Linked DNA regions of Homo sapiens. The protein of the gene in region 1 purifies or fractionates together with the protein of each later gene. This does not show direct contact. Each region holds a gene or a part of one and is shown in the gene's direction. Other genes may lie near its edges. The genes, in order: RARG, ZPLD1 and PNMA8A.

Region 1 (10,455 bases):
GGGTGTAGTGGCAGGCACCTGTAATCCCAGCTGCTTGGGAGGCTGAGGCAGGAGAATCGCTTGAACCCGGGAGGCGGAGTTTGCAGTGAGCCGAGATCACACCACTGCACTCCAGCCCTGGCAACAGAGTAAGACTCTCTCTAAAAGGAAAAAAAAAGAAAAAGAAAAAGAAAAAAGAAAAAAAATGTTCTGCTTCTTATATAATTGATACAGCCACTTTGGAAATCTATTTGGTGCTATCTGATAAAATTGAACCTGTATATACAGTTTAACTCTTAGTTCTATATCCTAGAAAAACTCCTGCATCTGTGTACTGGGAAACATGTACAAGAATGTTCATGGCTACATTGTTTATAACAGTCCAAACTAAAAACAACTCAAACATTCACCAACAGTAGAATGAAAAAAATAACTTGTGGTATATCCATGCAATGAATACTATGCAATAATAGGAAGACAGCTATGTGTAACAACTTGGATATAGTTCACAAGTTGAACAAAATAAGTAGGAAGCAAAAAGTAATAGAGTATCATTCCATTTATAGAAACTTCAAAAACAGGCAAAGTTGAGCAGTATTGTTTATGAAGGCATACACAGGTGCTAAAACTATAAAGAAAAACAAGTAATTTCTGTGTTTACGATTATTACAAACGTCAGGATTGTAGTTCGTTTTTAGGAGACTGAGGGAATTGTGAAAGGGATGCATGGGGAACTTCTGAAGTATAGGAAATACTCCAGTTTTTGACCTGGATGGCAATGAAGTAGGTATTGACTTTATTCCATTTATTCTGTATACTGTTCATAATATATTTATATACTCTGTACAGAAGGAGGAAATAAAAGTACCGCTTCTTTCTCAGCTCCGTGCCACCTTGTTCAGGTCATTATGCTGATGTTAGAGCACTTCCAAATGCTCGTCTTTCTCACCAGACCTCGAGGACAGTGATCTCTTTATTTCTGGTACCTGTCAGTACCTGGCACATAGCAGATACTCAGTGTTTGCTGAATTGGATTAAATTGAATTTCTCAAGTCTCTCATCCCATAGAGAGGTGGGCAGCTGCAAGAGAAGTGGAAGAACGCTGCTATAGTGAAGAGAGCTCAGGACCACCAAGATCTGGGTTCTCCTCTTAGCTGTGCCACTTCCTAGCTGTGCAATATTGAGCAAGTCACTTAACCTCTCCAGTTCTTACTCCCTGCTCTGTTAAGTGGGGATGAGATAATGTACATGTCTAGCACAATACATGGCACATAGTAGGTGCTCAATAAAAGATGGCTTCTCCACAGCCCCCTCCCCCAGCTCCACATCTTTTCTTCAAAGGAGTCCACCAGAAGGGGCAGCCAGACACCAAAGGGTGGGCTGGAGCACAGATGTAGTTTGGTCAAAGGCTGGCAGACAGGGAGATCTAACTGAAGCTGAATAGAACCCAGGCAGTTGGTGGGAGTTGGCAGGGGAAGCAGGATGCCTGGGTTCTGGGAGTTTCCATCCAGGGGAAGTCCCAGGTGTGGGTGTGGGGGTGCCAGGCTGGCCCCACCCAACACTCTGGCCCCAGGGGATGTGGGCACAGGGAGGAAAGTGGGTCACAGCAGGGCTGGGACTTAACCCCATTGGTTCCATGACCTCTTTGCTGGCTCTAGAGGAGGCACAGTCACAAAGAGGTCTGCTCCCTCTTTCAAGGGGCCCCCAATTCCTTTTCAAAAGGAAGAGACTTGGAACTTTTGTGTCTGGGTAGGAGGAATTGGAAGCTCTCCAGTGGACAGGGGAAAGAGAACCCCGTATCCCCTGGATGGAGATTCTGTGCAAAACAGACAGCTACATCCACCCACACACTGGCTGGCAGACACCTGTAGCACTCGCCTCACACACACTCCAGGCAACTGTGGAGGCAGACGTGCTAGCTCCAGGGAGTGGGACAGGTCAGGGCTGGATCGGGGGAGTGGGGGCATGGTAGAGCAGGCTCAGAGGAGAAGGCCTTCTGTCTGGTGAGGCTCCAGCTGGGCAAATGCAGGAATCCCTCACCCTGGAGGATTTGCCAGCATGGGGCCTTGTTTTCCATAGTATAATCTCAAGTCTCAGCCTGTGAGTCGTCTTCCCTCTCTGTCTCTGTTTCCCTTTCTGGAGGAAATGAATGCATTCAGGTATCTCAGCGTCCTGCTATGACCACAAGGAGGTACTTACCATCCCTCCCTTTTGGCATATTGAAATCCAAGCACGTCACAGGAATGGAAGGCCCCTCTTTTTTGGGGGCAGGGGGAGCAGACTGGCTGAGGGCCAGGACATCAATTCCAGGGCCTTTGCACATACTCTTGAGCAGCACATATATTTCACTGCCCTTCCTTCTCTCTAATCTCCCTCATTTTTTCTCCGAAGACTTTCCTGATCTCCTTGGCGGAGAATACTCCTCTGCTCCATTCTCATGGTCCCTCATGCCTCTCCACACTGATTATTCTAGTTGCAGTTTTGTGGATTATTTGGTTAACAACTGACTCCATCCGACTGTGAACTTGCCAGGGACCATACCTGGGTATTCCCAGAACCTAGCACAGTGCTTATCACATAGTGGATGCCTAATAAAGATTTGTTGAATTAATGCATGGTGCCTGTTCAGGGAAGAAATTCCCAGAGGTGTTTAGGCTAATCCTAAAATCCTGAGCTTCAAAATTAAGTCCTTATTCTATGTGGGGATCTGGGCAGCACTGGGGCTGGTAAGGACCTTCTACACACAAACTCCCTCACCAGGAGAGTCAACGAGCTGGCAAGCAGCAGAATAGGCCTAGTACAAGGGATGGAGTGGAGCAAGCACCAGAGGCAGGGCTGGCACCAGCACTGGCACAGAGCTTGCCTAGGGGGAGGAGGTGGGAGAGGAGAGGAGGAAGGGAAAAGAGAGGACACGTGTTGTACAAAACATGTTTTCATCACGCTCTCCCTGGGTGCCCTGGTCCCCAAGCCCTGACAGCACTTCCATGCCTTAATGATGTCTTTGGGGGCTGCAACACAGCTCCCCCACCACCCCCTATAGTCATCTGCCAGACACCTCTGAGCATGGCATAGGACATCCCCCACACCACCAGATTTGGGCATGGGGAAATGACCTATTCAGTGTCCTGATGCCGGAGGGTTGGGAGGGGGTGAGGGTGAAAATTAGGGTGGGGCAATTTTCATCCTCACCACTGTCCGCCCCCCCAGCATCAGGGCACTGAATAAGTCATTTCCCCATGACTTTCAGGACAGGTGGGACAGATATCTGCATCCTTTTCCTCTCCTCATAATCTCTCCTTTTGGTCTTTGCTCTGGGATGAGGGGAGCAAACAAAGCCTGGTACTAGGGCCCCCAAGATATCATTTCTCCAAGTTGCCAGGGTGACAAAGTAGAGCAGCCACAAACAGAGCAAAGCCTAGAAATAGGGATGACCCAAGGGAAAGAGGAATGAGGGGAGCCCCCTCCACCAGTTTCCAGAGTGGGAAGCCCTCTTCCCAAGCCTCCTCCTGGAATCTCTGGACAGAAAGCTGGCTCTGTTGCAAGCTGGGGAGTGGAGGGTGGGGAGAAGAATCTGAAGCCCTCACAATGCCCCTCTTCCCTGTCCCCCAATCTGCTGCTGCTGTTTGGTTTGACTTCCAAACTGCTGCAGTGAACAGACCCCAGTCACTGGGTCCTGGGGAGGGGCGGTAGAGGGGGCGGGGGTGGAAGCAGTGGCAATCCCAAGGGGAGGGGCCGGCATAGGGCGGGTCTTCCTGGGCATCGCTGCTTGGCTGCTGTCGTCGGCTGGGGACGAGGAGGCCGCCAGAAGGGAGGAGCTACAGTTACCAAGACGGATGGATAGACAAACGCCCACCAGAGACAAAGACCCGGGCAGACAGACAGACAAACCAAGACAAAGGGAGGGCAGAGACAGTTGGAATTCTGACTCCCTCTGTTTTCAGAGGCTACCCCAAGTGTTTTGTCCCCCGATTTAGGCTTCCCTGGCCCCATTTGCTACCTAGATGCACTGTCTCAGAGCTCCAGCTGTAGATCTTTGGGACCAACCCTAAGCCCCTCTACAGAAGGAGAAGGGAAGAGTTCAGAGAGATGATACTCAGCAGGGAGAGGAGAGTGTCACGGGTGGTGCCTGGTTCTGTGTCAGAATGCCTGGCCAAGGAGGGAGTGGTGCCCTTGCCTGGTTCATGAGGACAGGAGGCTCATTCACTGTAAACCAAGTACAGATGTGCTGGAAGGGGGAGGGGGAAATTAGGGCCACATTCCCAAACCACAACTGGGCCCGCCCTCCTCCCACCAGCCACCACTAGGGCAGGGCAGGAGGGGTTAACTTTGCAGCCTCTTGGCAGGAGCCCTGCCACACAGGCGGGGCGCCATCCCACCCCAGCCTGGACGCCTGGGTCCAACTCCCTGACACCCGCCCCTCCCACACTGCTGAGAGCTGCTCCCAGGGTAACCAAGCAAAGTCAACAGCAGCTAGGCCACCTGGGGACGGGACCCTGGAGTATCTATTCCTAGCTCTTCCTATCCCTGGAGTGAAAGAGAGGGCTTGTCTGCACCCCCATTGCCATCTCCCATTCCCTGAGGTAACCACAGCATGCCTCTTCTTTCCCCCATCTCCTTCACCTGACTTTGGCTACCAAAAGCAGCCTTTCCCAGGAGGGAGGACACCTGGCCCCCAGGGGGGAGCAAGGACAAAGCCAAGTAATTCCAGTATGGAAAATGTGACGTGACCCAGGAGTCTGTGTCCCAGGTCCTGGTCACCCTGCGAGCATTGCTGGGGAAGGTACTTTGGGTATGTCTGTCCAGCCTATCAGCCTAGCTCAGACTCTCCCCTTCTCCTCTTTCTCCCTCCCAACTCCAGTCCCCATGGGAGTGTTTGGGATCCGTGCACAGAGCTTGGACTGCAGACCCATTCTTTTCTCTCCCTCTGTCCTCAGTAGAATGCAGAGTGAAACCACTGGGTTCTCTCACTCTAGGGTTGAGAGTCTGTCTATGTTGAAGCAGATAATGCCCCCATCAGACACAGACACTCACTCTCGGCACTGGCATGCGCACGCGCTTGCACAGACACACACACACACACACGCACACACACACACACCCGGAGTCAACAGCATTCATGGCACATCTACCAGGCAGGCAGGCAGGCAGGCCGGTGCTGGCTAGGGCAGACACACACCCTCTGCCTGGGCTTTCTCTCTCACACCCAGCCCAAGGCTCCTCCCACTCCCAGCCACAGTTCCTCCTGCCCTCCTCTCCAGCCTCTCCCCTTCCAAATCCAGGCCTAAAGGTGGGGGACAACTGGCAGCCAGGGACCCAGGCGCCCTAACTCCTGGAGCTTACTCCAGGCAAGATGACAGGGAAGATGTCTGTGAGCCCTGGCCTCAGCACCCCCAGCAACAGCCACTAGTCAACCAGTTTGCTCCTGGGACCAAAGGACTGAGGTGGGCTAGGGGAAGGGAGAGGCTACTTGGATCTGCAGGTGAAGGCTGAGCAAAGAGTAAGGGCAGGAGCATCTATTCTAGATCTGGCATACTCCTGCCCGGCCAATCCAGCACTGGGAGGGAGTGGGTACCGCCCCATTGCCTACCCTGGGGAGGCGCCAGAGACTGGCCTCGCAAGAGTCACAGCCTGGCCACAGACAACTCAACTAGTCCCCCCAAAAGGCAGAAAGGAGAAAAGTGCCAGAGAGAAAAGGTTGGCATCACGGGGCCAGGACACTGACCTCCTCTGCCAGCCGTGCCCGGCCTCCCAGAGGATGGAGTCACGGAAGCCTAGCAAATGGGAAGGGCAGAGACCCAGGCGTCCCGGGCCGCCCCGCCCAGTCCCCCTCCCGCCCACCCATCCCTCCGCCCCCCAGCCCCAGGGCACAGAGGAGGGAGCCGGGCAGGGGCAGGCAGGGGAGGGAGGAGCGAGGGCGGGAGGGGGAGGAGGGAGTTGGGCAGGGAGGGAGGTTGGGGGGGGGGTGGGGAGGGAGAAAAAGAAAGAAAATATTTTCCGTGTCCCCGCCTGCAGAGTCAGTGTGCGGTTTGGGAGAAAATGTGTCGGATATTTTGGGGCGGTCACGTGGGCGGGCGGGCTCCGAGAGGCCCCGGGACAGTCCCAGCCTAGAGCCGTGCCCCCCCAGGAGCCCCCCAGTACGGCGAGCCCCGGACATTGCGACGCTCCATCCAAGAGACTGCCCGACGCCGGGACCTCGGGGCTCCGCCGCCTCCCTTCCCCCTCCCACTCCAGGTGAGTCAGGCGGGGAAGCAGGCTCGCCCGCCCCGTCGCCTGGGTCCTCCGGCGAGGCGGCTGGGGGAGGGGGCGCGGAGGAGCTGCACGGGCGAATGCCCTCCCGAGGCTGGCCAGGCTGGCCGCCGGGCTTGAGGGGGGCTTCTTGCCCCGACCCAGGCCAGTCCTGCTGTGGGAAGGGAATGGGGAAGATTTTAACAGGCTGAGGATGGGCTGGGTCATCTGCCCTTCATTTTGGTGCATAGCAGAGGACAGCATTTGGGGAAGTCTTCAGCCAGGGGGCATTCCTCCTTATATTTTTGTGCTGGGAATGTGAGAGAAGACAGGGTTTCCTCTCGCGGGGAAAGACTACCACCCCCTTACCCCCGGGCTCTGAGGGGTAGATTTGATGTTCCATGCTGGTCCAAGTTCCTCCCTCCCCAGTGGAATGGGACAGCTTGGACATCAGAAGGCAAGGAAAACGTCCAGAGGCAAGTGAGCCTGGCCCTCCGCGTCCAGGAGTTCCGAAGGACTGGTGCATAGGATAGGGATCTGTGAACTTTCCTTGAAGCGCTGGATTCCCTCCCACACGTTCCCAGCCCAGGTGCGAGCCTTGGCTCCCTCCAGCCAAGGTGGGGGGCACCTCTGGAGTATTCTTGAGGGAAGCCCAAATGGAACAAAGAAAGAGCAGGAAGACCGGGACAGGGACCCAGGAGTGCTGGTCCCAGAGTTCCACTGACGCTGCCTCTCTGTCTTTAGCAGCTACGGCCCAGTTCCCTCAACCTGACCCAGTATGTAGAAGCCAGTCTCTGCAGGCGGCCAGCGGGTAAGAAGATGCTTGGTTGTTAGTGGTGGTGGGGGCAGGGGAGCCTGAGTAGGAGGTCTTCAGGGCAAGAAACTGAGATGACTGTCCCGCTTTAGGGCTCTGGTCCTGGGCAGCTGGAATCCCAATCCTCAAGTCTGAGGCTTCTGCCCTTAGGGTCAGATGCTGAGTTGGGGTCAAGGACCATAGCCAGCATCTCATATCCTTGAGGCAAGTAGAGAGAAGACAGGGGAGTGGGGGTAGTGTGTGCAGGGAGCCTGGAGCTTGGGTATCCCATATAGACAGACATACACACACACACACACACACACACACACACACACACACACACACACGCACTGTGGCCTACAGCCTAGTAGGCAGCATGGGGCACGCCCCCCCACACCCCGGCACACCCCCACCCCTGGCTCAGAAAGCCACCTAACTGGCACCTCCAGTTCCCCCCTCTGCCCCACCCTGTCCATGCCCTCTGATGCCCACACACATTCCACTGGCATTGCCTGCCTGCCTCCTGGGCACTGCCCCTCCCTGGGGCTAGTAGGGTGGAGGGAGGGCACCTGGGGATGAGAGGTGGAGACTCAAGGGTCTGGACTCCCCCAGGGATGGCACAATGCCAAGGAAGCCTGGCCCACTGCTGCCTCCTGGGGAGCAGGCTGGGGGCCCAGGCTAGAGCAGAGGATGCCTGGGTTCTCTGCCCAGGCTGGAGATGGGGTCATGGAAAAAGGTGGTCGTGTTTATACAGAGGGGAGGGGGGCAGCGGGTGGAGAGTGGCCGACAAGAGCAGCTTTGTTCCAGGCTCTGGAGCGGGCAGGGCGACAGGGAAACACACCCCCCTCCATCCGGCAGCCCCCTTCATCCATGCCCTCCCCTCAACTCCACCTCAGCTCTAAGAGAAGCAGCTTTGTAAGAGCCCCTCTCCCCTAGTCTGTCATCCCCGCTGCCCCACCATTTGAGATGGCATCTTAGTAGAGGAAGAATGTTCTCTACTTTCCATGAGTCCCCCAAAGAACCAAGGCACCTGGGGCCTCAGTTTAGGACTTCCTTTTACTCTGCACTGCCTTCAATTCCTTAGTCCATTCTCCTACCCTGGGTTTAAGACCCTCCCCTTCTCTTCCCAGCCACGACAGAACCAAGGCTCAGAAATGGGAGGAATCTCTACCCCCTTCCTCTCTTCACTCAACTCCCAAGTCCCTTCTCTGAGGCAAAATAAGAGGAAGGCCAAGGACAACTCTCATTGGCTCACATGCAGCATCATTCCTTGGTGAGGATCAGGAGCTGAGCATCCCTCTGTGGGGACCCCCACTGCCCTACCTGCCTGTGTTTCCCATTGGTAGGTGAGAAGCAAAGACAAGGAGGGCTAAGGCAGAGAGCCCTGTTCCCAGTCTAAGCCAAGTCTGGGGAACATGGGGATGGGGGAGTCCTCTAGTAGCTTCTCACCCTTGTCATTGGAGGGGTTAATCCACCTGGAATGTGGCCTGGCCAGTTGAGCTGTGGCCCAGGGGCCTCAGGGGCCCCCAAACTCCTGGCTCCATCAGGGCTTAACTAGGGATGAGAACTTCGGAGGGGAATAGGAGAAGGAAAAGGAGAGGGACCCTGGAGGCTTGGAGCTCAGACTTTTAGGGCCTGCGAAGACACTGGGCTAAAGAGTTTGAGGGTGCTGGGTGTATGGGTGGTGCCATGGTGAGGGGCAGGGGATGCTTCATTCATAAGGGCTGAGTGAAATGTGATGGCGTTGGGGTCTGGGTTCTTGTAACCTCCATGACAGTTTACCCTCAAGGGCTTGAAGGCCAAGGTAGAGGAGAGAAAGAAAAACAAGCAAAAACAAAAATAAAAACCAGAGGTATAAAGACTGAGAGCTATACATCCTAGAAGCAAATACTGATGGAAAGAAAGGCAGATATACCCATCCCCTACCTCTGGGCCTGCCCACCCCATGGTCTCTCTGCATTTTAGTCTCTTGGCCCTTCTCTGCCCTTCATAGCAGTCTGTTATGGCTCTGACTGGTGGAGATACCCAGGCTGGGGTGACTTTTCCTCCCTAGCCCACTAACTGCCTAGAGAGGTGAGAAGTTCTGGGGCTCCTAGGAAAGCCAAACTTTTCCTTTGTCAGGGGATGAAGATAGGAACCACCTACTTAGCACTAGGATTCCCATCTCCTCTCTCTACCTCCTTCTCCTCCCCTTCCCCTGGGCTCAGGTTTAAACTCTTAGAGGGAAGCCTACTTTTGGGGGAGGAGAGGTTGCAGGGAGAACTTCCTAGAAACAGGGAGCCCAGGGATAAGAAAGAAAAGGAGGCAGAATGCCCGGGCGTGTCGCTCACGCCTGTAATCCCAGCACTTTGAGAGGCCAAGGTGGGCGGATCATCTGAGGTTGGGAGTTCGAGACCAGCCTGACCAACCTGGAGAAACCCCATCTCTACTAAAAATATAAACATTAGCTGTCTCAACAAAACAAAACAAAAAAAGAGAGAGAGAGAGAGAAAAAAGGAGGCAGAGAAGTAAAGTCAGCTGACCAAGAAGCAGCTCCTTGGCATCATACACTTGGCACAAGTGGGGGCTCCATCAACATCCTTAGATTTGAAGCAGTGGGTACAAGAGGGCTTACAGGGTGAGGAAAAATTGGAGACAGGAAGAATTGGGAGAGGAAACTGGAAGAGGGAGTGTTGAGGAAAACAGAGAGGGAAGTGCTTACTGAAGCAGAGTATGGAGGAAAATAAGGTACAAAGAGAACTAATATGAGACATTTACATCACATTTCCTATGTGCCCTACATTATGCCAGACACTTGACATTGGTTAATTTATTTAGTCCTCACAATAACCATATGAGGTAGGCCCTATTATTAGTCCCAAGTGACGCATGAAGAAACTGAGGCACAGAGAGATTAAGTGACATGCCTGAAGTCCCACAGCTAGCAAGTGGTGGGGTACAGTCCAGGTAGTCTGGCTCTAGAGTCTGTCCCCCTAACCTTTGCCTTGTACTCCTCTCCAGAGAGCTGTAGGGCTCCCAGGTTATAACAGAGTTATGTTTGCCTTCTCCAGGATGGTAAAGAGTTTGAATCTGGGCTCCCCCACTTGCAGCCATGTGACCTTAAGCCAGTCACTTCACCTCAGTTTCCTCATATGTGAAATGAGAATCATAACTCCCAGTTCACAGGACTGATGTGAGGTTTAGGTCAAATGCTTAGCCCAGTTGTGGTGATTCATGATCACTTCCCAATCTAGGAGTTCTCTCCACCAGAAGTCCTTAGACCATCATTCACCTTGGGACCTCAGTTTAACCTTTCCTGGAGCTCCTCTGGAGAGTTTCTCAGAGCCTGCATAACCCCCTGCCGTGCCCTCTCTACCACACTGCAAGGGCCCTGAGCCAGGGCAGGATAAACTGTAGCAGCACAGAGGGAGAAGACTGCAACTGAGAGAGGGTCACAGGGCTTGGAACCTCAGAGT
Region 2 (10,824 bases), on another chromosome or scaffold:
ATGTTATCTGACGAGGGGGAATTTCTATATTACAAGAGACTAATGGAATATAACAACCAAATGTAATACATCATCCTTTTCACTTAGTTGTATTATCTCCTTGGACTCTTTTTAGGGTTTACTGGATTGGGGGGGAAAGTTATATAATATATTTTTTATGAATTGAGAAAGTTTGACTATGACTTGATATTGGATGCTCTTATGAATTAATTGTAACTTTCTTGCGATTGATAATGCCATTGTGGTTATGTGGAGAAGGCCCTTATTCTTGAGATGTGTGCTGGAATATGGATCAAAATGTCTAAAACTAACTTCCAAATGACTCAGTATCCACCACCACCACAACAGATAGATGGATGGATAGATAGATAGATGTACATATGTTTGGATAAATACATAGATAAAAAAGATGAGAAATGCAATATCTAATTGGAATCTCCACATCTCAAGGCTGTATTAGACTCTGTTATAGTCCTAGTTTCTGAGAATGTAACTTGTGAGTCATTCTTGATTCCTTTTTCGTACTCACTCTGCACCTAGAATGCAACAAGTCCTGTTATTTCCTTTTCAAAATAATATTTTAAATATGTTTACTTTAATGCACCCCTAGTATTATAACAGTAGCACTCAATTCAAAAGTCTTCAATGATTTTCCATTCCACTTAGGAGAAAAGGTGTAGCCCGGCCCTGCTGCCTACAGGGAGACAACTTCTGGCCCTCTCCTCCTAGCTCAGGATGATGGACTTTCTTCCAAAAAAGTTTCACAAAGTATTGACTGTTTTGACATTTGAGGATCTGTGGTCATGCGATGAATGCTACCTAGTTCACCTTGCTCCAGCCTTCATCTGACTAACTTGACTCAGTCCTTCAATACTTTTCAACTGTTGCATTTCTCAGAAAGTCTTTTCCTGACACCTGCCATCTAAATTAGGATCTACTGTGCTTTACTTTTCTTTCATAGCACTTTCCTAACATATTTTGCAAACATTTTTTAATGTGCTTGATTATTAATTTAATAACTCCCTCTGTCTATAGTCTATAAGCTCTGTGTGGGTAAAGCTTATGTTTGTTTTGCTTACTTCTGACTTCCCAAGACCTTGAGTCCAATGCTTAGAAACTGCTCACCAAAAATATGTGAAATAAATAATTAATTAACAGAAATCTCAAAGAGAGGAGTACTATAGGAAAAAGAGCTGTTTTATTCTTAGGAAAGGGTTGACAAAGATGTGAAATTATATTGCCATTATTCATTGTTGGTACCCATGAACATACATTTGAATATCGGGGAGTGGGTTTATATTCAGCCAAAAGATACTGGCATTTTGTCCCTTGTGATTGATTCCTGTGCTGTGCCTTCTCATAAATATTTTGCCTATCATCTCTATTGAGAAAGAAATATTTTTATTCTGATGTAATAATACCAATAGTCAAGTTTTCATTGGAGGGAAATGAGCAATTAAGATAACTAGTAAAATTATTATTTTATTATTAATTTGTTATGATTACACTTCATGAAAGGAGGAAGGAAGTCAATATGCTAGCATATCTTCAAAGCTGCTTCAGAAGAATAAAATGTGCAAATATCTTGAAAAGGAACCTGGTGAATTATTAAGGGAAAGCTTTTAAAGTGACTTAGTTCCACCTATCATTTCACTTACTCCCCCAAAACTCAGATTGTACAATAAATGTTCTAAACTAAACACTGTAGATCATTTAAATGCTGTAGATTACTTAAGAAAACCCTCAACAGAAAGACAAATGAGGAAGGCAGGCAAAGGGAAATAAATGAACACTCACTTTGTGTCAGAGAAAATTGGAGTAGGTTTTTCTCTTAGGAGCAGCCTTTAGCATTCATATTTCCTTATGGTATACATCAGCATCTTAAGAGCCATAAAATTTCTGAATGTCTTCTTGTTGGCTCAACATATTTCCTTCTTTGTTTGAGGCATTATTCTGAAAGTACATGGTGTGTTTTTTTCTTTATTTAGCAAGACAAGGACATTCTACATTAATGAATGTATATGTACATAATAATGAATATTTCCAATGAAGGTCATATATTTTCATTTTTCTTTTAATATATATGTTGACTCTAATGTGCAAGTGCAAGATAAAGATAAAGAATATAGAGCTTCAGTCTAGACACCCCATCAGAGAACATGTTTCTTTATTAAGGAGTTGTGATCCTTAGCACTTTAAAACTAATGATTTAGGGCCGGGCATGATGGCTCATGCCTGTAATCCCAGAATTTTGGGAGGCCGGGGTGTGTGGATCACCTGAGGTCAGGAGTTCGCAACCAGCCTGGCCAACATGGTGAAACCCCGTCTCTATTCAAAATACAAAAATTAGCTGGACGTGGTGGCGGTTGCCTGTAATCCCAGCTACTCAGGAGGCTGAGGCAGGAGAATCACTTGAACTCAAGAGGCAGAGGCTGCAGTGAGCCCAGATTGTGCCATTGCACTCCAGCCTGGGTGACAAGAATGAAACTCTGTCTCACAAACAAACAAACAAAAAACAATAATGATTTTGAAGGGCGAGTTAATATGTACTTTTCCTGGAGAGAAGACTGTGTAACATCATGATTCTTAGCTGGGCAATACAGTTGCCTACCTGTGTGGCTTTAGTGCCCGTTTACCTAGGATCTATTAGTTGTCCAATGCTGGAGTAGAGTTTCATCCTTTAACTTAAACTTTGATCTCTGTTAAAATACACACATTTTTTTCTCCTTTTTTCCTGAGATCTTTTAATGTTTCCAGTAATTTAAACCTTAATGAACTGTTGTGATCTTTTCTGCAGAGCAGGTTTGAGTGAGTGATGCAGAAGCACTGGGTATGAGGCCATGCCCCTACAGGAATGGCAGCCTGTGGAGAGTAGCTGCTCAGTAAATGCAGTGGAGAGCCAAGAATTAGAGGACTGGGGCCTCACCGATGCCAAAGAACTCATTTCACATTTTTGTGAATCTGTATGATAAAAAACTAGCTTTAGTTTAGTGGGGAAAAGTGCATAAATCTCAGATTGATGTTTAACATTTGAAGAGATGATATTTAGTTTGAATTTTCTATTTTTCTTTCCAACTATAACAACAGATCAGCCTATATCAAGGCAATGAAATTAAGGAAATTTAAAAGTTTGATAAATTGTTGAGGTCATTTGTCTCTGCAAAAGTTATTTCTTGAGAGCAGATAAAGGCACTTTCGAACATGTTCACTTTTTTTTTCAGGTCACAGGGGTGCTATTTAATAAATTACTTTTCTCAGGCACTAAGAGCCACCTTTATTCATCTGAAAAGGTTAATGCAGATTTTTAAAGTGTCCAAGTTATTCCCAAAGAGTAATTTGTGCACTAGGAAAGTCTATTTTATTTGAGAAGTAGCTAAATGGCAAGAAAAAAAAAGCAAGTGAGGTATACATTATAGACACATAGATCTGGGTTGTTCATAATCAATGTTCCCCCCAGCAAGCTTCATTTATATGGGTTAGTTATATATCTCTGACCACTTTATTTAAAACTTCAATATTTCTTCCTTCCACCTTAGAACTTCCTACTATTCTTCTTGCTTTATTCATCTCCATAGCACTTATCACAAATATACTCTATATTTTACTTGTAGATTTTGGTTCCTTCTGACTTAGAAGTTAGAATGTAAGTTCTATGCAGATATGCAATAAAAATTTTTCTGATTGCTGTACCTCAGCATCCCCCCACTCCCTGGAGAGTACCAGACACATATAAACATTCAATAATTATTTGATCAGTATACACAAGAATAAAGCAATACTGATCAAATTTACCAAGAAATTGCCAAATTTCCATTTGATTTAGCATTATATGCATCATTTTCTGGAAGGCGGTGCCACATAATAGTTGAGGGTTGTTTCTGTAGTCATTGCTCCGGGCGTGAATCCTGATTCTAACAGTGGCTGTCTGCTTAGCATTGGGCAAATTACTTCAGATTACTGTGCCTTAGTTTTCTCATTCCCCAGTATAGGGAGAATAAATTGCCTATCTCATAGTTAGAAAACACATATAAAAGTATTTAAAACACTCTGGTACACAGTCAGCTCTTAAAACTTATAAGTATTACATTAAATCAATTTTTGAAAAGAACAATATTCTTTTTCTTTTTGTCTTGAGACGGAGTCTCGCTCTGTCACCCAGGCTGGAGTGCAGTGGCGTGATCTCGGCTCACTGCAAGCTCCGCCTCCCGGGTTCAAGGCATTCTTCTGACTCAGCCTCCCGAGTAACTGGGACTAAGGCACCCGCCACCACGCCCGGCTAATTTTTTTGTATTTTTTTAGAAGAGACGTGGTTTCACCGTGTTAGCCAGGATGGTCTCGATCTCCTGACCTCGTGATACACCCGCCTCGGCCTCCCAAAGTGCTGAGATTATAGGCGTGAGCCACCGCGCCTGGCCAAGAACAATGTTCTTTATGCACTCACTGCCTAATGAAATAGAGTCATGAAAATTATGTAGATATTAAAAAATATTTTGTCTCAATCATCTGAATTATTTAATTCAGAGCATATCTTAAGCATACATTATTAATATAATTTACTTTCTGAAAATTAGTAGGACATTAATTTTATTTGAAAACCTCCAATCAAGTCAAAGAGAATAATGTAATAATTCCAAATGTCAAGCTCATTTTTGAATTCTGCATTGCCATTTACTATGTCTGTGACCCTGTGCGAGTCAATTAAAATATTTAAGCTTTGGTTTTCACATTTTTAACATGAGTAAAAATTAAATCTATGTAATTAGTTGAATATTAAACATAGCACAGTGCCTGGTACATACAGTAACAGATCTCAATAAAAAGATTAAACAAAGATTATTTTATATTAAAATCTAAAGACCAATGTTTGTGACAGAACTATACCAATTAATATAAAATTGAGGAGGAATTAAAAGTGCATTATATTTTTCTGACTCCAAATTTAATTCTAAGCAAAGAAATTAGAGATTTATATGTTGGAAGAAGTCATTTTAAAAAGAAAATTTAGTATGAGAAATATTGACATATTTGACAGCAAATCACTTAGCATATGACTTCCTTTTCTATTAGTAACAGTTTATGAGATACAGATGTCTCTTTTTTTACACAAACACTTCTGAATTTCTTAAAATTCAACATTTTACTTATAATCCTCCTTCTCCTCCCCATTCCCATCAATTTAAACTTATGAAGATTCTAAATAAGAAACACATACAAAACTCTTTTGCACACATATCTTCAAGGCCATTATCATCTCAGACTGTGGTATTAATATTTTGTATTATTGGATGTATTAGACAAGGCATTCTTGTAAACCACTATTAAAATCCAAGCAGAGACATTGGTTGCTGCACTTAGATGTGGTGGAGAAGGTGAAAAATGCTTCTGCTCAGATTCTCTGTCAAGAGTTTGCTGGAGCCACAGTGGGACAGCAAGCACCTTAGATTATTCCAGAGTAAACCACAGAATCAGGTTCTACATTCTGAAAAGAAACTCCACTAAACCTTTATAACCAGATCAGAGCTAAAATACACATGTCTGGAATTGCACCTGCCTAAGATCTAGGGAGCCTGAGCAGCCAGGATGATATGTTTTTGAGGAATGTAAAGGGTGTTAACATAATCCCCCAATCCCATACAATTCAATTTCAGAAAAGTATTTAGGGACTGTGCTAAAATAGCATCTCCAAGCTTGCTATGGCAAGATGATGCTCAGGTTTTCCATGTGCAGGGGAAATGATGAAGGTAAGGTTGAGGATGGGAAATTTGCAAGATAATAGTTCATCAGTTTGTTTTAACTTACAGTTGAACTATAAAGAAGGCTTGAAAATGTCGTAAGCCCTGCCAAGACTATAGAGATTCAAAATAGGGATACTGCCTTTATAAGAGATATGGGTGTCCTTTTAAAATTCCTTGCCTAATGTGCCTTAATATTAAAACACAGATCAGCACAAATATCATTGTAACTCAAATAGAGATTCAACCAATTAGGGATGTCACTAGCCCATGAGACACTTTGTATTGTAGCTTAGCTCTAGAGTACATGGCTAGTCCAAAGAAGTTCAGACCTAGACATTGTTTTCCTGCATTGGATGCCCTTGTGGAGGGTACGACCTGCACATCAATATGTGGTGGCCTTGAAACTAAGTTTTCAATGCCTTCTGTATGTCCAAACTATACTATACTTTATGCACTTATACTTTGTAAAGTCTATGATCATCATCTTGATTTTTTTTTTTTTTTTTTTTTCTGAGACGGAGTCTTGCTCTGTAGCCCAGGCTGGAGTGCAGTGGCGAGATCTCAGCTCACTGTAAGCTCCGCCTCCTGGGTTCACCCCATTCTCCTGCCTCAGCCTCCCGAGTAGCTGGGACTACAGGCTCCCGCCACCACGCCCGGCTAATTTTTTGTATTTTTACTAGAGACGGTGTTTCACCGTATTAGCCAGGATGATCTCGATCTCCTGACCTCATGATCCACCCGCCTCGGCCTCCCAGAGTGCTGGGATTACGGGCGTGAGCCACCACGCCTGGCCATTATCTTGATTTTTAAATGACAAATCTACAGAATGGCTGAGAAGGGATTTATCTGAATCTATACCTGCTAACATAAAAATCAATATATTTTCTGTTAAAGAAAGCTGCCTTCTACTTCCACCTCGTATTCATTAAAAAATGGTTAGGGTATTAATCACTATGAAAGTGCTGTAGGTTTTGTTAAGGAGAGTAGGACAGTGTCATGCCTTTTTGGGACAACCTGAGATGTGATTTAAAGCTTTAAGGCTAAGAGTTTACTACTTGTTCTCAGTGAGCTGTTTCAATTAACATGAGTTTTTCATTTATTTTTGGCCAACACAAATGTGTCTAGTTTAGTCAATAATAATTTTTTTGCTGTTTTCACAATGAGAAATAAACAATTCTCTCTGTCTCTTTTTTAAAAATAATTTTATTTCTCATAATGCCCCATTATAAAATATATCTATAAAGAAAATTGTATTAATTACATCAAAATTGTTTACTCATTATAAATGAACAGATCTATTAAAAGATACACAAAGTAAAAAGCTAAAGAAAACAGCTGATGATAAATGGCAATAAAGAAAATCTTAAATTTAATAACAGATGAAATTTAGGTAGCTTGTTCAACAAACTTTACTATCAGAAAGACTTAGGGTTGAATTCTAGTTCCTCCACTTCATTTTCACGTCATTTAAACCTTCTGAGACTCATTCTTTTCTCTGTACATGCAGTAATAATTGTAACCTCACCCATCATTATAAAAAATATAAATGAGCAGCTATAGGAAAGTTATCTGGCACAAAGTGCCTTCTTTGTGCAAAGTGTACATTCAGTAAATGTTATTTTCTCCTGTGAAAAATATATGTTAGCTAGAAAGCATTTCAGAACCACAAAATAACTCACCAACTTAAATTCCTGATTCTGTAATTTCTTAGGATACACCTCTGTGTTGGGGACAACAGTGTGGGTCTAGAGTTTCCAATGTCTTCCAGGAGTTCTTGGGACCCATCATGAGAAGGAAGTGGTGGAGCATGGAGCATGGAATAAATGTGGGTGCAGTGGAGTGTATTGCTTATTCAGGCTTCTTTCTTTTCTAGTGTCTTCCAAAGACTCCAAAAGAGCAAGACTGTCTTATTCTAGTTGAAGTATCTTGAGGAGCTAGATAATGATGGCGCAGGTATGGCCAAGAGCTCCTAGGGTCTGGGTCAGCCACTGGTGTGAGCCTTTTGCTTATGGACTGTCACAGGCAATCAGAACTAACTAGGCATATGGCTGTTCTCTCCAAAGTCTTTAGATCTGTGCCCGAGTACTGTGTGATAGTGCCAAAGGAAGGAAGTTCCTGCTGAATTAATATTTTTTTTCAGTCGATTTTTGAGAGTGAGCATGACTTTCTTTCCCACATCCTCACCAAAGTGACTTTATTCACTGTAAACTTGTTATTCTGAAATGATGATTCAAAAGCAAGATGTGTTTCCTTCCTTTTCCTAAAGACTTGATTAATTATCTAAGGGTAGATTTTTAAGGACAGCTAAAACACCATTTTCCTTCCAAAACCCAAGCTTTTAAAATCCACTAAATTATTTGAGTAAACCACTTGCAATTTTATTTTCTTTTTGCTTTTTATGCGTAGACCAAGACCACCAACCCAAAAGATTCTTTTCAGTGTACAAACTATGCTCTGAGAATAAGTTAGGTATTCCTGAAAGATGTTTTAACTCTATCAGGCCAATGAATGGGCATCCAGGAAAAAGAATTATTAAACGCAAAACTGACTGGTGTTTAAGTAAAAGTCCATTTCTATTTAACTGTTCAACCCACACTGATACATTTAAAAAAATCTTCCATTACTTTATCCTAAGAATTCAACGTTTTCTTATGTCTGTATCAGTCCTTACTACCCACCAAGGAGCAGTTGTGGGAGGAACTGCAATGTTGTTCACACACAGAGTATTTTCCTGTTCTTCCTTTTGCTTTATCACTATGTTTCCTAAGAAAATGACACACAAACCATTGATTTTGAAAAGTTGCAGTAGTCTGGAATTCTTCTGTTGGGGGAGACTTTTTTCTGTTTTCTGTTAAGGGAAAGTTGTTATTTGGTCATTAAGATTATTGAGATTCCTCTTAGAATCAAGTATCCAACATTTAAATTCCTCTGACTATATACTTGTTGGTATTGTAAAAAGTAGACTCATCTCCAAATTAGTCTGCCTAGTTATGCTATTCCAATCTGCTAGATACTTGGTTTGCGTTCTTCCTATGCATAATAAAGAAGTTTCCTTTTGTAAACTTTATGATTTATACCTTAGCTCTTCTACTATGAAAATCTAGCTTTGTCACCCTTAGCCAACAGGAGGCAATGATGAAAACAATATTGAAATGTTGTAACCCAAATATCTGCCTTTACTACCGATAATCCTCAGTTATTTCGTGAGCTTTGGCTGCATGGATGTAAACTGCTTATCCAACAGTGAGCTGAGATCAGCCTCAGTTTTTCCAGTAAGTAGGAGTGAAGGAGTTAAGTGGGAGTGTCCACATGATAGATATCTCTTTTCCAGGTTTTGCAATGGAACAAATATGGTTGCTGCTGCTTCTAACAATTAGAGTGCTTCCGGGGTCTGCTCAGTTCAACGGCTACAACTGTGATGCCAACCTCCACAGTAGATTTCCTGGTAAGTGTAAGCCTAATCTATTCTCTAGTTGTTTCTGGAAGAGTGATTATATTTGAAGAGCAAGTCATTTAAATATATATGGAGAACGGGGGGCTATCTCTTTACATTAAGTGGATATTAACAAATGGCAAATGACAAGACATTTTTCTGGAGCTGTAATTTATATCCATATTAACATACAAAGTGTTCATCATAGTTAATATTATTATAATGGCTGCTCACAGATATGAAAAATATTGCCTACTGTGTAAAAAATTGGGAGAGACTAATTTCATTCAAAATTTGTGTCTTTTTTTCTCATAAATTAATTTAGACTTTAAAGAACTGCTCTTAAATGCTAATATTTATTTAGGAATAATCTTAAGAAAATGATTGTAAAATATTGTACAATACAAAAAAATGCTATTTCAATGAAATGATGATTACCACAAAGGACACAGGTGAGCTTCAGAATGAATTTCACAGAAACCCATCAACGTTGTGACAAATACGAGATTTGGCAACATTGATGGGCATGTCCCACAGGTTTCTAAAACCTGCATTCAATGATAAGTTACTCAAGGTTTTACCTAGGTATTCATCATTTTATATTAGCTAAAGTAATGGAACCACAGTTCAACATTTACAAAATAAATATTAGGTAATTGGAAACAATTTTCCAAGTCTGCCATGCAAATGGAATCTCTTTGGCCGTGGTTTACATTCTCAAAACCTGCCAGTCCTCCTGTGTTTGGAGCATGCTATGAAACAGCAAACCTGCATAGAGCAATCAGTAGGTAGTTACATAGATAAAGTGCGATTTCTACAACAGAGCCCACATCAGAAATTGTCTGAATGTCTTCATGAACTTAGACCTAGGATGTAAGTGCTTGGTTTGTTAGTAAAATATGAAGGTCACGGTGGGAATGACCAAAGGAATTCAAGAAAAATTTGCTAAGGCAGAGTTGTTAATGGCTTTGAATATCAAAAATGAGCTTTTTTTACATTTATTATTATGGAAAACTTCAAACATACAAAAGTAGAGGTTAGTAGAAAGAGCACTCATATTGATTATCTAGCGTTATCAATTATCAACATTTATAAATTTTGTTTGATCTTTGTCCTTACCACTCCCATCTCTGGCATATTTAAAATAAATGCATTATTCATGCTTTGGTGTTTATATGTGATGGAAAAGAACTTAAAAATCATTATCCTTTACGTATACGTCTAATAAGCCCAACAGTAATTTCTTAATATCATTAAATGCAGCCAAGTTGCTTCTAAAATCTTCACATAGAGTATTTGTTGATATATCTTTTATTTCATTTTGTTTTATAACAGTTCTCCTCTGTCCTTTGCTTTTACAAAATGCTGTTTATCTCTTTGAGCAGTTTGGTCATTTGTCTTGTAGAGTTCTGACACCGGATTTGGCCAACTGCAACTCTGAGGTGTCATTGAACAGGCTCCTTTTTCCTGTCTATCCTGTAAACCAATGAGAGCTAGAAGTTTAAGTAAATTCAAGTCAATTATTTTGGTGAGAACATGTGTTATGTAGTGTAATAAAAGTGTTTTCTCTTAATTTTGAATGCAATCAAGAGTCACTGAGTCTTTTTAAACATATCTTTTAAGAGGTTTGATGTGGTCACATTTTGTTTTAGGAAG
Region 3 (10,943 bases), on another chromosome or scaffold:
AATGGCGTGAACCCGGGAGGTGGAGCTTACAGTGAGCCGAGATCGCGCCACTGCAAGCCAGCCTGGGTGACAGAGCGAGACTCCGTCTTAAAACAAAACAAAACAAAACAAAGTACAAAAATTTGCCAGGCATAGTGGCGGGTCCCTGTAATCCCAGCTACTTGAGAGGTTGAGGCAGGAGAACTGCTTGAACCCAGGAGGCAGAGGCTGCAGTGAGCCGAGGTCGCGCCACTGCACTCCAGCCTGGGTGACAAAGTGAGACTCAGTCTCGAAAAAAAAAGAATTGATATTTATATAACTAATCCTCATGCATCCCGTGCCATTCTTCATCAAATCTTAATACTATGCTAAATTTATTTACACCTTTTTTTTTTTTTTTTTTTTTTTTTTAGCATTATTGGCTGGACTCAGCAGCTCATGTCTGTAATCCCAGCACTTTGGGAGGCCGAGGCAGGCGGATCACTTGAGGTCAGCAGTTTGAGACCAGCCTGGGCAACATGGGGAAACCCCTTCTCTACTAAAAATACAAAAATTAGCTCAGCATGGTGGCACGTGCCTGTAATCACGGCTACTCAGGAGGCTAAGGTAGGAGAATCGTTTGAACCCTGCAGGTGGAGGCTGAGTGCGCCACTGCACTCCAGCCTGGGGGACAGAGTAAGACTCTGTCTCAGAAAAAAAAAAAAAAAGAGATTTATATAATTAACCCTTATGTATCCCTTGCCATTCTTTATTAAATCTTAATACTATGCTAAATTTATTTACACATCTTTAAACAAAATTATTGTTTAAATAGGCTGTGTCCTACCTCCCATATGACTTGCCCTCTTCTTCTCCCCAGAGATAGTCACTTGGAGGATTATTGCATTTAAAAATCCAGTATTTATCAAAACTCAGTGTCTGTCATTCCCTTGCATGCCAAAATAAATAACTGAAAAAGAGAGAAGAAAAAACAGACAGTGTCTAATTCTAACTGAGTCACTGTGTGACTCAGTTTCCACTGCAGCAACTTTGTCTGCAGCCTGGATCACAAACAAGCTCCCGCATTTGTAAAACTACTTGGCAAACATAGCAAAAGCCTCTGAGATTCAGCAAACATCCATTCCATTTCATTTTAGTTATGATGTTTTACAATCCACTGCTGGTATAAATTTACTTTTTATCCTGTCTAGATTGACGATTTTCTTCTTCTTCTTTTATTTTTTTATTATTATTTTTTTTTGGTCTGACAAATCCTTAGCAGAATTTTCAAACACACTGAGATGTTTTGTTTTCTCTTTGAAGAGAAAGTTCCAGAACTTTGATTCTGTGCTCATGCACTGGGGTTGGGTGGCATTCCTGAAGGGGCAGCCAGGACTGTTAGGAATATTGGCTCTGCAGAAAGCTGAAACCTGGCTTTTGAGGCAAAGCTGAAGGCATCTCTCTCCCTCCCTTGCCCCCCATCTCTCCATTCTGTAACGCATTATTTGTTCACTTTTGTAGTAAAATACACATAACATAAAATTCACTATTTTAACCTATATTTATTTTTCAAAAAATAATTTACTTTTTTTTTTTGTTTGTGAGACGGAGTTTCACTCTTGTTGCCCAGGCTGGAGTGCAATGGCACAATCTCAGCTCACCGCAACCTCCGCCTCCTGGGTTCAAGCGATTCTCCTGCCTTAGCCTCCCAAGTACCTGGGATTACAGGCATGCACCACTATGCCCGGCTAATTTTTGTATTAGTAGTAGACACAGGGTTTCTCCATGTTGGTCAGGCTGGTCTTGAACCCCTGATCTCAGGTGAGCTGCCTGCCTTGGCCTCCCACAGTGCTGGGATTACAGGCGTGAGCCATCGTGCCCAGCCCGTCTTCATTTTTCTACCTTCACTCCTACTAGCGTTCCTGGACCCAGATGTCCTGGATGCAGAGGTCCCTCCTGTTACGGTGGTAGACGCATCTCATTCCCATGGGGGTCCCAAATACTTCTCTAGAGTAACTTTTTTTTTTTTTTTTTTTTTTGAGACGGAGTCTTGCTCTGTCGCCCAGGCTAGAGTGCAGTGGCGTGATCTCGGCTCACTGCAAGCTCTGCCTCCCGAGTTCACGCCATTCTCCTGCCTCAGCCTCCTGAGTAGCTGGGACTACAGGCGCCCGCCACCACGCCCGGCTAATTTTTGTTGTTGTTGTTGTATTTTTAGTAGAGACAGGGTTTCACCATGTTAGCCAGGGTGGTCTCGATCTCCTGACCCACGATCCGCCCGCCTTGGCCTCCCAAAGTGCTGGGATTACAGGCGTGAGCCCGCGCCGGCCTCTCTTTCTTTTTTTGAGACGAAGTCTCGCTCTTGTCCCCCAGGCTGGAATGCCATGGTGCAGCCTCGGCTCACCATGTTGGCCAGGCCATTCTCCTGCCTCAGCCTCCCGAGTAGCTGCGATTACAGGAGCTTGCCACCAGGCCCGGCTAATTTTTTTGGATTTTTAGTAGAGACGGGGTTTCACCATGTTAGCCAGGATGGTCTCGATCTCCTGACGTCCAGATCCACCCGCCTCAACCTCCCAAAGGGTGGGATTACAGACGTGAGCCACCGCGCCCAGCCTCACAGGAACACTCTTGTTCTTGCATCCTTGAGCTTCCAAATAAGAAGTTCAACGATCTACCCTCTGGTTTTCATGCTGTGAGGAAGCCCAAGCCACATCAGTGCTTCCATCAACATTTCCCAGCTGAGCCCAGCTTTCAAAGGATTTCAGCCCAGGCACCAGACATGTGAGTGAAGAAACTCCCAGATGATTCTAGCTCTCAGTCATTTGAGTCACCCCCAACTGTCACGGGTACGACTAGGTGCGGCGGGTGTTGTGGGCAGTAAAGGTATTTACCAAGACAGTTGTAGGTAAAGAAAGGCAGATTTATTAGAGAAGATATGAAAATACATTGCACGGTTGCAATGGGCAGCACAGCAGAGAAGGGGGCTGTCTGCAAAAAGGCAGGGACTGGAAGTTTCATAGGGGTATGCTGGAGGGGGCTACATGCAGAAAGAGGTCATTGTGCCCATGGGGGATTGTGATTAGCCATCTCTCAGAAAAATTGTTCATTGTTCTTCCCAACCTGGAATGCTGTGAACCCGGGAGGTGGGGCTTGCAGTGAGCCGAGATTGCGCCACTGCACTCCAGCCTGGGCGACAGAGCGAGACTCTGTCTCAAAAAAGAAAAAAAAAAAGTGTTCCAGTGAATGAGGAAGAAGCTGCGTGCCCTTCTGTAACATAGTCTGAGAAGCCACATAGCTTCCTTTCCACTAAACTCCATTGGTTAAAGTAGTCACAAGTCTGCTCAGATTCACGAGGAGGGGACACAGATCGTCACTTCTCAATAGAAGTGTCGGAGAATTTATGGCTATGTTTTTAAACCACTGCCTAAAAATATACACTCATTCTTCCACTGATATGTAGAATTTCAACATATAAAGCACATGAGATTTAAAGACTTTAATCATAGCTAGAGTGTTTATTGGAATATTCGGTGTGAATTATGTGAATAATCAGAGGTTAACGATTTGAATGACACAACTTTTTAGCACAAAATATGATGGAAACTTGGGCAATCACACAAGTATTGATGATGCCCAAATTTAGGAATGCCAGAGATGACAGTGAAATGAACATTTGGCTATTTGGCCTTGCAAATGTCAGTTTCAAAAATGAACCCAAAGAACAGATTTTGGTTGAATACCAAGGCCCAAATTGTACTTCCATGCATCTTTCAGATGAGATCCCCCCGAATCTTCAAAACTTCCAAATCAGGAAGATTTTTTATTAGAATTCCTATTACAGAGAAAAGAAATAAGCTCAGCGGGGTCAAATTATTTCTCTAAGATCACACAGCCAGGAAGGGACATTGGTAGGTGGATCAGTGAGGGACTGGCAAAAAAAAAAAAAAAAAAACAGATGGCCAGTCCAACCGAGTCTCATAGGAGTGCTTAATTAATTAGTTTATTTTTTTTGAGACAGGGTCTCCTGGGTTCAAGCAATCCTCCCACCTCAGCCTCCCGAATAGCTGAGACCACAGGTGACCCCTATCACACCTGGCTAATTTTTTGCGTTTTTGGTAGGGACGGGGTTTTGCCATGTTGCCCAGGATGGTCTCGAACTCCCCAGCTCAAGTGATCCGCCCTCCTCAGCCTCCCAAAGTGTTGGGATTACATGCGTGAGCCACAGCACTGGGCATTAATAAACTATTAACAAAGTTCTTGCTCATGGGCAGCAAGGTTGAGGTAGGAGGCCCAGGGGACTCCACTGAGGATCACATTGAAGACTGGCCAAAACCTGGAAAAGGCACCGAAAGCCTCTCTCCATAAGACATGCCTGCCAGCACCATGACAGTTTACCATTGCCATGGCAACACCCATAAGTTACTGCCAATTTGCTAATTCTGAAAACCCACCCCTTAATTAGCACGTCATTAAAAGTGGGTATAAATGTGACTGCAGCCTTGCCCCGAGGTGCTATTCTCAGCACACTGCCTAGAGGGTAGCCCTCCTTGTTAGGTTTTGGAGGGAAGGTGAGGGTTAAAGACACACAGACAGAAGGCGGCTCAACAGCAACTCAGGTATACTGCAGACACCTGTGGAAGTGGGTAACCAGCCTAATGCCAGAGCCCACTGCTGCTTATAGGCTGGGGGTACTTATAGTTATGGGTGGGAGGGGTCTGAGCAGTATGGTTTGCTGCCCAGCAGGATGTTGATAAGATGGTTCCATGATGAGGCGGTTCTGGCCCTTGTTCTGGTGGAATGTGGTGTTCTCTGCACTTTCTCCCAGCAGAATATGATAGGGATGTTTCTTCAGTTGGGCCTTTGCACGATAGGGTATGATAATGTTTCTTTAGCTGGGCCTTTGTCCGCCTTGTGGTCAGGTGATTAGGCAGGATGTTTCTCATTGGCCCGAACCCCCGTGGAATATTTCACTTTGACCAAGATCTGCAAAATAGTCAGGGCTTACAAAATGGTTGCAGTTTGGACTAACACTTCTCTGTAGGGGCAGTCACTGAGCTGTAACATTGTCCCCTGCCTGGAGGATGCCAAGAACCTGCCCTGAATCACGTTGAGGAAACAAGAAAAGGCGAGGCATTATCCTCATGCTAGAAGGGGTCGGGGAGGAGACTAAGAAATTTCTAGAAGTTTCTGGAAATTCCTGGAAGAACCCAGCAGCTTGTAAGAGAGAAGGCTACAAGCCCAACAGGAACTGCACCTGCTGTTGGAGGAACCCAAGAAGATTAAAGCCTCGTTTTCCTCCTTTCTTGATTTCTAGTGTCTCCCAAGAGTTGCGTTGGGTGAATCCAACAGGTGGGGCAGAGGATAATACAGTCAGTGGGTGCAGCCATAGGTGTTGGCGCTTCTCATCGACCTAACCCCCGTTCGCGAGGCCCACTTGGGTTGAAAGAGGGCCTCCGTGGAGGCGCCACCGGAGTGTATCCAGACCCGCTTGCTCTGCGACCTGAACAGGCCACTCTTGCACCCGGCTCCCTAGGTCCAATTGCAGCGCCGGCGCGCCGGCCGGGCTCAGCCCTAGCAACCCACGCCCGGTTGCCATGGAGACGTCGGCACCTGCGCAGCCCAAGACCCCCGAGCGGCGGTGCGGGAGCCAGTGCGCAGGCGCGCGCTGCGACGCCAACCTCGGCTTCTCGCCGCTAACGGCATCGAGTCTGGACGCCCCGTGACCCGCCTGGGCCGGAGCGGGGGCGGACGGCGCCTTCTTGGCCCTTTCTGCCTCTAGCAGCGGCGCCGGGGTAGCCGGAGCCAGCGACTGGGAAACGGCTGCATTCCACTGCGTCTCCTTGGCCTGGCTGGGCGGTCGGAGGCTGATCTGCCAAGTAAGTCCCGGCTGGGCAGGCGGAGCGTCAGGCCCGGGGGAGGGTCCTAGGGCCTTTTGCTGCAGATTCAGGGACACGTGTGAGCACCGGGGCCTGGGTTGGGGAGGAGGGTGTTGGGAAAGCGCCAGGCCTCCTGCAGGCCAGCCGCGGAGGGGGCAGCTAGGATCTGTGAGCTTGGTCATCTTCCTGGGAACGTGACCTCGCTCCCTTGTCACCTTGCAGGATTACTGTTTGGAGACCGCTGCAGCCCACGTCCACCTGATAGACTATTTACTACACATAGTAGGTTCAGAGCCGCTAAATGTCCAAGACCATGGCGATGAACCTTCTGGAGGATTGGTGCAGGGGAATGGAAGTGGACATCCACAGGTCCTTGTTGGTCACAGGCATCCCAGAGGACTGTGGGCAGGCAGAAATTGAGGAGACCTTGAATGGGGTCCTCTCCCCACTGGGCCCGTACCGCGTGCTCAACAAGATTTTTGTGAGGGAAGAGAATGTTAAAGCTGCCCTCATTGAGGTTGGTGAAGGTGTGAATCTGAGCACCATCCCCCGTGAATTCCCAGGAAGGGGTGGTGTCTGGAGAGTGGTCTGTAGAGACCCTACCCAGGATGCCGAGTTTTTAAAAAATCTGAATGAATTCCTGGATGCCGAGGGGCGCACCTGGGAGGATGTGGTCCGCCTGCTCCAGCTCAACCACCCCACCCTGTCCCAGAACCAGCATCAGCCCCCAGAGAACTGGGCAGAAGCTCTGGGGGTGCTTCTGGGAGCAGTGGTGCAGATCATCTTCTGCATGGATGCCGAGATCCGCAGCCGGGAGGAAGCCAGGGCCCAGGAGGCCGCTGAATTCGAGGAGATGGCAGCCTGGGCTTTAGCAGCAGGGAGGAAGGTGAAGAAAGAACCGGGGCTTGCAGCAGAGGTGGGTTCTGCCTTAAAGGCAGAGACCCCCAACAACTGGAATGCCACGGAAGACCAGCATGAGCCTACCAAACCTTTGGTTCGCAGGGCTGGAGCTAAGTCTCGCTCCAGGAGAAAGAAGCAGAAGAAGAACTCCAGGCAGGAAGCAGTGCCCTGGAAAAAACCCAAAGGCATCAATTCCAACAGCACAGCTAACTTGGAGGATCCTGAGGTGGGTGATGCTGAAAGCATGGCGATCTCAGAGCCGATCAAGGGCAGCAGAAAGCCCTGTGTGAATAAGGAGGAGTTGGCTTTGAAGAAGCCCATGGCGAAATGTGCCTGGAAGGGTCCCAGAGAGCCACCTCAGGATGCCCGGGCAGAAGCCGAGAGCCCAGGAGGCGCCTCTGAGTCAGACCAAGATGGTGGCCATGAAAGCCCACCAAAGAAGAAGGCCGTGGCCTGGGTGTCTGCCAAGAACCCCGCTCCCATGAGGAAGAAGAAGAAGGTGAGCTTGGGCCCTGTCTCCTACGTCTTGGTTGACTCAGAAGATGGCAGGAAGAAGCCGGTGATGCCAAAGAAAGGGCCAGGCTCAAGAAGGGAGGCATCAGATCAGAAGGCCCCTCGGGGCCAGCAGCCTGCCGAGGCAACAGCCTCAACCTCTAGGGGTCCGAAGGCCAAGCCAGAAGGCTCTCCTCGGCGTGCCACCAATGGTGAGAATGATAGCAGAAGTGACTGGGCTCGTGCCAGCAAGTGGATGAGGCAGGAGGAGCAGGAGTGGCAGGTGGGGCAGAGGAGCCCGAGGAGGTGGTGGGTCAAGCGGGTGATGAGGAGGACCCTGGTGCATGGCAGGAGGTGGATGACACACCAGTTGAGGAGGGTAAGAGCCCAGACCGCCCTTCCAGGAGCCCCTGAAGGCCGATGCTGGAGACATCTGGTGGGCAGGAGGTGGCAGAGGAAACCCACAATGAGTGTCACTGTGGTCATTTGCCACTCCATCTGACCCATCTTCCTTGATGAGAATTTAATGGTTTGGGCCCAGGCTTGGTGGCTCATGCCTGTAATCCCAGCACTTTGGGAAGCCAAGGTGGGCAGATCGCCTGAGGTCAGGAGTTCAAGACCAGCCTGGCCAACATGGTGAAACCCCGTCTCTACTAAAAATACAAAAAATTAGCCGGGTGTGGTGCCACATACCTGTAATCCCAGCTACTCGGGAGGCTGAGGCAGGAGAATCTCTTGAACCCGGGAGGTGGAGGTTGCAGTGAGCCTAGATTGTGCCACTGCCCTCCAGCCTGGGTGACGAGAGTGAGACTCTTGTCTCCAAAAAAAAAAAAAAGAATTTAATGATTTGGGAGGCCAAGGCAGACAGATCACCTGAGGTCAGGAGTTCGAGACCAGCCTGGCCAACATGGTGAAACCCCATCTCTACTAAAAATACAAAAATTAGCTGGGCATGGTGGTTTGTGCCTGTAATCCCAGCTACTGGGGAGGCCAAGGCCTGGGATTGGCCTCCAGACATCTGCCCACCAGATGTCTCCAGCATCGGCCTTCAGGGGCTCCTGGAAGGGCGGTCTGGGCTCTTACCCTCCCTGAACCTGGGAGGTGGAGGTTGCAGGGAGCCAAGATCACACTGCTGCACTCCAGCCTGGGCGATAGAGTGAAACCCTGTTCCCCCCTCCCCCCAAAAAAAATATTAATACTTTGGAGTTATGGTGTTTGCAGGGTATGTGGCTTTAAGGGTGAAGTTTTCTAGAGACCTGGCTGGGGAATAGAAATGTTCAGGGACCCAGAAATTTCTTGGAAGTAATGCATTTCCTAATGACACCTCTCTGCTTCCCTTCTTGATCTGTTCTCTCATTTATTTGCAGAATCCAGAAAGGTTTGATCTGGGGGACCACCCATACTGAGGAGTTGAAAGAACAAGGAAGAAGTACCAAGTCAACCAAGTTCTCTCTTGTCACTGAATAAGACTTTGGACTCTCTTAGGGCCCCTGTTGATAGAGATCTGGCCCTGAGGTAAACGATAGGTGAGGTCTTGGGTGGGAGGGAGTTGGGGAAGGGAGGTGGATCTCTATGCCCTTTTCTCTACCAGGCCTGCCGTTTCACCGCCTTCTCTACTCACCTTCTCTTCGGAGGCAGGAGAGTTGGTAAGAGGATTGGGAAAATTCTAGAACATTCATTCCCCTTTATGCATGAGCAGGGTCACTGTTACACTCATCCATGTTCAGCTTTTCTCCCCCACGCCTTGCTCCCTCCTCGGAATGGTCAGCGACCTCTGCAGGCCCTGGCATTTGGAAGAGCTGGGTGGCCCTGCCATATTCTTCCTCCCGCCTTCCTCTCGTGTAACCAGCGGGGTAAGTTAAGCCAGGACCTTCGCTGCAAACCTGGTTTTATTGCTCCTTCAGTCTCCAGCTTCCATCCTCCAGTTATCTAGCCAGGAGGTCCCAAGAGTTAGTTTTAGGGAAAAAGAATGTCTGCCTAGACCTCAAAGTCTTTGAGTTTTAGAGTCTGTTAGTAAAAATGGCACTTTGATTCCCATTTGGGATGAGCCCTCTCAGGAATCCTGTGGGGAAGGGGGGTGATTATAGGGAAGGACGCAGGCATTCCTAGGTCCCCAGCTCTAATTCCATCCATCTACCCAACTGTCACCATCTTTGCACCAAACTGTCACCATCTTTGCAGCAGAAGGTCACTACTCACATTATAGTAAGAGGGGAAAAAAATCTTTTAAAACTTGGCTGTTGGCCGGGCACGGTGGCTCACGCCTGTAATCCCAGCACTTTGGGAGGCTGAGGCAGGTCGATCACGAGGTCAGGCGTTTAAGACCAGCTTGACCAACATGGTGAAACCCCATCTCTACAAAAATTAGCTGGGCGTGGTGGCGCGCGCCTGTAATCCCAGCTACTCAGGAGGCTGAGGCAGATGAATTGCTTGAATCCAGGAGGCAGAGGTTGCAATGAGCCGAGATTGTGCCACGGCACTCCAGCCTGGGCAGCAGAGTGAGACTCTCTCTCAAAAAAACAAAACTTGGCTGTTAATGTCTGCCCTCTGAATTCAGACACACTATATTAGACCAGACCACCATGTGTCATTGTGTGTGTGTGTGTGTGTGTTTGCGTGCGCATGTGTAGAGGAGAGAGCAGGGTCCCTGAGATAATGGTTTCCAAACTGTATCGTAGCCGTCCACAAAGATGTAATCCAAATCTATTTTTCTCACGTGTTTAAAAAACTGAAAAGTGACTACTCAGATATGTTGGAAGTCACATCGAAGACTATCAGAATATTACCTTGTGTTCATAGGTTAACTTGTTTTTGTACACGTCTTAGTTATTTCAGGCATCTCTTTGCTTAAAATTGAGTTTCTTGTAAATGTGACTGATGAGCGAGGTTAGAAGTGGAAGAAATTCCTGTGCATGTTCTATAATCTGACACCCTGAAAGCAAGTTTCCTTTCGTCATTCACATGCTCTTGTTCTGCCGTGACTGTTCAGGTGTATGGTAGTAAGTAAATGTATTAACATGGTGAACAGTAGTAATATTCTATCATAGAGTATTAGCCCTTGCAAGTTTTCAGGGCGTCTTTTCCGACTTCAGTTTTTGTGATAAAGAATGTGAACAGTTGTTAGATGTTCTCAGTGATTCAACTTTAAAACAAATTTCTCGTGATGATTCATTTCAAAATCCTGAGTGAGTCTGACTGAAAAATACGAGAGAAAAGAGAGTGGTTTCCGTTTGCAGCTACACAGCTGTGTGCATCGACGTTCTCCTGGGGTGTGTGCCAAGCGAAACCCAGGGGTGAATTGGATTCTTGAAGAGACCAAAGCCTGTAACTGTCCAGCTTCTAATTTCAAAACGGGTCCATTAGGGCTTCGTTGTGTTAACAAGTTGACACCATGACTAGTAAATGTAAACGTGTATGTATAAAATAAAGTTTAGCAAATTAAGTGTCCTGTTAAGTCTCTTGTAGGTGAGGATTGCATGGACTATTAAATTTGAGGAAAGGGTTCCCCTTTCCTCAAACAGTGCCCCCAGCCAGATGTGACTGGTTATCAGATACGGGTTCAAGCTTTGAGAATTGTTAATGATCCATGAGAGAAGAAGCCGTTTGTCCTCTTTGCGAATGGCTTTCCACTGATGTGGAAGGATGTCCCACAGATCTTGGGGTTTCTAGAATAGGTATCTGGTGACGCAAATTACCTCAAAGTACCAGTTTATTTTTTTA

Evidence for each region.
Region 2: the proteins of RARG (region 1) and ZPLD1 purify together in Homo sapiens (affinity purification with mass spectrometry; 2 studies listed by BioGRID and IntAct, with this or other methods). This does not show direct contact.
Region 3: the proteins of RARG (region 1) and PNMA8A purify together in Homo sapiens (affinity purification with mass spectrometry; 2 studies listed by BioGRID and IntAct, with this or other methods). This does not show direct contact.

The regions. Positions count from the first base shown.
Region 1 is NC_000012.12:53,227,729-53,238,183, reverse strand, and holds the start of RARG (retinoic acid receptor gamma), read left to right. Parts: upstream 1-5,974; 5' UTR 5,975-6,210; intron 6,211-6,948; 5' UTR 6,949-7,015; intron 7,016-10,455.
Region 2 is NC_000003.12:102,429,414-102,440,237, forward strand, and holds the start of ZPLD1 (zona pellucida-like domain-containing protein 1 isoform 2 precursor), read left to right. Parts: upstream 1-5,601; 5' UTR 5,602-5,701; coding exon of another isoform or gene 5,702-5,741; intron 5,742-7,446; 5' UTR 7,447-7,560; intron 7,561-9,066; coding exon of another isoform or gene 9,067-9,074; coding exon 9,075-9,180; intron 9,181-10,824. UniProt on the Homo sapiens protein: Glycoprotein which is a component of the gelatinous extracellular matrix in the cupulae of the vestibular organ.
Region 3 is NC_000019.10:46,466,225-46,477,167, reverse strand, and holds PNMA8A (paraneoplastic antigen-like protein 8A), read left to right. Parts: upstream 1-5,604; 5' UTR 5,605-5,831; intron 5,832-6,053; 5' UTR 6,054-6,132; coding exon 6,133-7,435; coding exon of another isoform or gene 7,436-7,506; intron 7,507-8,590; coding exon 8,591-8,607; coding exon of another isoform or gene 8,608-8,629; 3' UTR 8,630-10,665; downstream 10,666-10,943.